Linked DNA regions of Homo sapiens: region 1 is linked to region 2. Evidence: fine-mapped expression QTL. A gene starts in region 2. The other region holds a variant in brackets. All regions are shown on one strand. Distances are from middle to middle.

Region 1 (3,016 bases), 39 kb after region 2:
CCACCCGTCATTCTCAGTCACGGGAGATGGCTGCTGTTTTCCTCTCCATTTTGCCCTGAGGAAACTGAGACCCAGAGTGGTTAAGTCACTGGCCCAAGCCACACAGCCGGGAAGCAGCCCCTGAGGCTGGTTCCTGACTCCACTGCCTCTCGGCCCTGTGGGGTCAACCCTCTGTCCCCCTCTCCGCTATTGCCATCTTCACCCCCAGAGCTCCACACCCTCGGGTCCTACTGCTGACCTCAGACCCACAGGGCCCTGCCAGCCCCCAGGCCTCTGCCTGTGCTCTTCTTTCTGCCTGGAGTGCTCTTCCCGTGGCCGGCTCCCCACCCACTCCTCGGGCCTCAGTGGAAAAGCCCCCTCTTCACAAAGGCCAGCCCTGGTGGCCCATCTTCCCCCCGCATCAGGACCCCGTCTCGCCTTCCTGCTCACTCATTCATTGAATGCAACTGTACTGAGCATGCGCTGAGTGCCGTCTGGGCCAGGGATGAAACAGAGAATGAGGACAGCGCGGTCCCAGCTTTGGCAGACCTGACCTCCGGCACAGGGTGTGCGTTCTTGGGCACAGCTACCAGCATGGCCGGTGCTGTCATCTGACCTTCTCCTTTCCATCCTCCTTCTTAAATATTCATGAGCTCATGGGATCGTGCCTGAGATTAGCTGGTCTTCCCGTATGACCCTGGAGAATCACTGATCGTCGTCGTCACCCAAGTGAATCCTTGTTGCGCTGCCCCTAGGTCCCCCTCATCTTGGGCTCTCCCCACCCAGCATCTGCCATTTCCACCCTCAGGAAATCCCTCCTGCTCCTCAGTGGGAAGACAGAAGCACCAGAGTGGCTTCAAAGGTGAGTCCTCAACTGACAGAGCTTAGGGCCGGTGTGGCAGATGGCATGCCCTGAACTGGCTCCCATGCTTCCCAGAATGGCCGCTATCTGTGGAGTTCTGTGGAGCACAGGCCTAGTTTGAGCCCCTCAAGACCAAGTTTTGAGTCTCCTCATTTTACTGGTTTCTCTTTTCTGAACATTTTCCAACTTGGTGTTTCCATTAAGCTGTGGGGCTCAGAACGTGGTTTCATTGATCAATGACAAATCAAGCAGGACCATCACCTCCCACATTCTGTAGACTATGCCCTTATTAATGTGACCCAAGATTGCAATATAGAAAGATCATCATCCTCTTGCCTCTCCCACTGATCCTAGCTCTAAGGCAGTGGTTCTCCCCAGCCTACACAATGCAATCATTTGAGAATTTAAAAAATCCAGGATTATCATCTCTGGAGATGGTCTCAGGTGATTAC[G/A]ATGGGTAGCCAGAACCAAAAGATGGAGATGCTGCTGTCCCATGGCCTCCTAGTCCTCTGAGCCCCAGCCACTATCCCTAACTCCTTAAGTCCCTGGTCTCCAGGAGTTTAAGGGTGACAGTCGGCATTTATGCCAGCTGCTAACCATGGTTCCCAAAGTGTGTTCCAGGGAGCAGTAGTGCTGCAGAGTGCAAAGCTGCACATCTCTTTCCAACTCCACTGTTCAGAAGTATTACACTGGTAACGTGACATTGATCATGGTGGGAGTGTTCACGCCACAGATATTGGTGGACTGCAAAACAGGGCTTTCCACAGTGCCCCCCAAGGCTGGTGGTTGGTGGTGGTTGTTTTTTCTTGACATGGAGTCTCGCTCTGTCACCCAGGCTGGAGTGCAATGGCATGATCTCGGCTCACTGCAACCTCCACCTCTCACATTCAAGTGATTCTCCTGCCTCAGCCTCCTGAGTAGCTGGGATTACAGGTGCCTGCCACCACACCTGGCTAATTTTTGTATTTTTAGCAGAGGCAGGGTTTCACCGTGTTGACCAGGCTGGTCTCAAACTCCTGACCTCGTGATCCGCCCACCTCAGCCTCCCAGAGTGCTGGGATTACAGGCGTGAGCCACCACGCCCGGCCCCAAGACTGGTTGTTAAACATTTGTCAACACAGCACTGTCCTGACCACCCACTCCTCTCACCCTCTGGACTCTGTCACAGCCACCCATTGATCAAAAGCAACCAGAAGCCAGCTGGCCAAAGCGCGTAAGGGTGCAGAGCCTGGGGCTCAGCCTCCTGGAGCTCAGAGCAGGACAGAGGAGGTGGAAAATGGATGGGGGAAGCCAGTAGAAAATGATCAGCCTGCCCACACCTGCTCTCAGGGAGACATGACACGTGCAGTCAACATGTTCCTCTGCGTGAGGCAGACCTGCATGCCAGCACTGAGCCAGGCGACCACCTGGTAGCTGGATGATCCATCAAGGAGGCTCTGGTGCCCTGCTTATGTAATAGACCACGTCAGCCCCATGTACTAGAACCTCTTTTTAATTTTTTGGAATAGTGATAACATCTACTCAAAGAAAACGATGCTCCATTTTGATTGATTCATCTCTGACACATTCCTAGGCCAGGAGTCAGAAGCTCTCACACTTGAGCATACATCAGAACCCCTGGGTAGGGGGGAGGTTAAGAACATGATTGCAGCCGGGCACGGTGGCTCAGGCCTGTAATCCCAGCACTTTGGGAGGCCGAGGCGGGTGGATCACCTGAGGTCGGGAGTTCGAGACCAGCTTGATCAACAGGGAGAAACCCCATCTCTACTAAAAGTACAAAATTAGCTGGGCGTGGTCGTCCATGCCTGTAATCCCAGCTACTTGGGAGGCTGAGGCAGGAGAATCACTTGAACCCAGGAGGTGGAGGTTGTGGTGAGCCGAGATTGTGCCATTGCACTCCAGCCTGGGCAACAAGAGCAAAACTCCGTCTCGAAGAAAAGAAAAACGATTGCTGCGCCCCAGAGTCAGACCAGTGTTTCTGATTCTGTGAGTCGGGAGGATGAAGGGTGCCCACGAACTTGGATTTCAAAATCCCCAGGTGCTGCTGTCCTGGCACGCCACTTTCAGAATTCACTGCTGCATGTAGACTAAACTGTAATACTCCCCTCCTCTGACAAAGCCAAAGTGGCTGGCTGTGTTATCACCCCAGCAGGCATGGAGGAAGGGCCGGGCCTC
Region 2 (2,732 bases):
TAATTTCCTTCAATACTGTTCTGTGGTTTTCCATCTACCAGTCTCACACTTCCTTGGTTAAACATGTTTCTTTTATCCCTTCAGATGTTGTTGTAAATAGAATTGTTTCTTTAATTTCATTTTTGGATTGGGGCAGTCTTTTGAAATAAGGACATGAGTGGGAAAAAGCAGAGGATGGCTGTTGACGCCTAGAGAAAAAAGTATAAACACAGAGAAAAAAAAAACAGAAGCCAGAAATTACATAAAAAGGAAGGCACCGGGAAAGATGAGAAAGAACAGGGTTGTGGGAGTACTACACTTAGCAAATGCTTAAGCAAAGTCAAGCTTTCAAGACAAGATTCCTAAAGCAAGGCAGGAGTATCCTAGGACAGACAAAAGCTCACTCGACAAGGCAAAGAGACAAACACCAGAGTTTGGACCCCACCAACTCCCTTAGCCAGCTGGCAATATGGTTTCACCACTTCTTAGAAAAGAGGAATGGAGAGGTGTCCTCAAAAGCCACCACTAGGCTTTCAGAATGTTTTGTGTGTCTGTGTCTTGGCAGAATGAGCCAAACGTACTTTCTTCGTGCCCCATAAGATGAGACACACCCAGCAAAGGCTGTCCTCATACAGAACTACCTCCAGGTGTCTTTTATACTGCAAGACCTGCACCAAAGGGTTCTACCTATAGAAATCCTAGCACCTAGACATAGTCAACCAAGTACATGGCTCCCTCACCCTCCAACCAAAGATGCCATATTTCCATCAGAGTGGAACAAAATCCCACTGTGTTCCTAATGCCTCCTGCAATTTTGCATGTGGGAGACATGGCTGGTATGTGACATTCTCTTCTACAGATTGTAATGGATTGGGGAAGGAGGGGGAACTAGAGTTCAGGCCTATCTTTCTAGAGGACAAAATAAATATGCCTTGATAACTGCAATTATCTGAAAACTATTTCAAAGAAAACTCTTTGTCTCATTCTGGCATTTGCTCAAGGGTATGGCTTTCCATCAGTCTCTCTGTCTCCATGTCTCTTTTACATACATATGTATGTGTATATGCGTGCGTATGTGTACATACATCCATACATATAGACATATTCTCTCTCTCTCCACACACACTCACACACCCCTCCAACCTCTGTGGCTCTGAGCGTCATGTGTGTAAGACACTGACGCGAATGGTGAGTGCCTAGGCAGGGGTCAAACAAAGGCTACCTACCATGCCAGAGGATTGCCACAAACACCTCTTAAGCAAGCATATTCCTTGGCTCCTCCCAGACACACTGAATCTGAATCTCTAGGATTCTGATTTCGGAGCCCAGGAATCCTCCGGTGCAGGAGTTCCCAGGTGACTCTGATGCACCGGGAGGCTGGAGGCGCTCGGATCTAGAGAGGAGGCGGCACTTGTGCAGTGCAGTCGGGAAAGAGAGGAGGGGCTGGGCCGGTGCCTTTAGGCGGTCAGGTGTTAGGACCGGAGTACAAGCCGCCAGCCGCGCGGGAGCAGGCCCCGAGGCAGCCCAGCCGCGGGGCAGTAACCTTTAGCCACACTTGGCCTCCGGCCGCCGCCAGAGCCGCTCCGCCCCCGCCGCCTCGCCCCCACCGCCCCGCCCTCCTATTGGCCGCGTCCCCAGCCGGGCTCGCGGCCTCGGCCAATGGGGCCGGCGCGCGCCGGAAGCCGGAAGCGCGGCAGCGGCGGCGGCGCTCCCCCTCGGCAGCTGTTGTGGGGCACCATGCGAGGCTTCGGGCCAGGCTTGACGGCCAGGCGTCTCCTCCCGCTGCGGTTGCCCCCGCGGCCGCCCGGGCCCCGGCTGGCGAGCGGGCAGGCGGCCGGCGCCCTGGAGCGGGCCATGGACGAGCTGCTGCGCCGCGCGGTGCCGCCGACGCCGGCCTACGAGCTGCGCGAGAAGACACCGGCGCCCGCCGAGGGTCAGTGCGCGGACTTCGTGAGCTTCTACGGTGGGCTGGCCGAGACGGCCCAGCGGGCCGAACTGCTGGGCCGCCTGGCGCGGGGCTTCGGCGTGGACCACGGCCAGGTGGCGGAGCAGAGCGCCGGCGTGCTCCATCTGCGCCAGCAGCAGCGGGAGGCGGCGGTGCTGCTGCAGGCCGAGGACCGGCTGCGCTACGCGCTGGTGCCGCGCTATCGCGGCCTCTTCCACCACATCAGCAAGCTGGACGGCGGCGTGCGCTTCCTGGTGCAGCTGCGGGCCGACCTGCTGGAGGCGCAGGCCCTCAAGCTGGTGGAGGGGCCGGACGTCCGGGTAAGGGGCCGCCGTCGATCCCCCGGCAGCGCGGACTGGCCGCCCTCCTCGAGTAGTCCTCACTTGCCCCCTCCAAGTCCCACACACCCCGCCTTCCCTGCCCGATAGCACGCTCACTTCGCCCGCAGTTACCGCCTGCCAACTGTGTCCCCTTCCCACGCTGTCTGAGTCCTGGCCTCGTCAGAGCACACCCCCGCCTTCCTCCAGTCTGTCCTTGAAGTCCTCACTTGTATAGTGTTTACTAAATACTCAGCACTTGGTGGTCTTTAAGGTAGCTGTCACCTCTCGTACCTGATTAGTGTGTGCTCTACAGTCTTTTGAAATTATTGTAGCTGAGAAGTGTTTCATCTATATGGTATACCTGAACTAGAGCATCAGGCAGCCTTCTGAGACCCTGGATGGTGTTTCAGAAGTTCACTGGGCACCCGCTATGTGTGAGACATTGTCCTGAGAAGTCCTGTGAAATGCACAAAGGTAAATAGGACTCA

Evidence for each region.
Region 1: its variant is fine-mapped to the expression of MLYCD in fibroblasts (GTEx, PIP 0.94).

Annotation. Positions count from the first base shown.
Region 1 is chr16:83,936,344-83,939,359 of GRCh38, forward strand. No RefSeq gene overlaps it. Among named protein-coding and RNA genes, the nearest start is that of OSGIN1, 15 kb to the right of the region's middle. The variant G/A (reference allele first, on the strand shown) is at 1,294.
Region 2 is chr16:83,897,429-83,900,160 of GRCh38, forward strand. MLYCD (malonyl-CoA decarboxylase) reads left to right here and starts at 1,687. Exons shown (of 5, transcript NM_012213.3): 1 at 1,687-2,244. The coding sequence starts at 1,717. RefSeq lists silencers at 1,457-1,886, 2,187-2,356.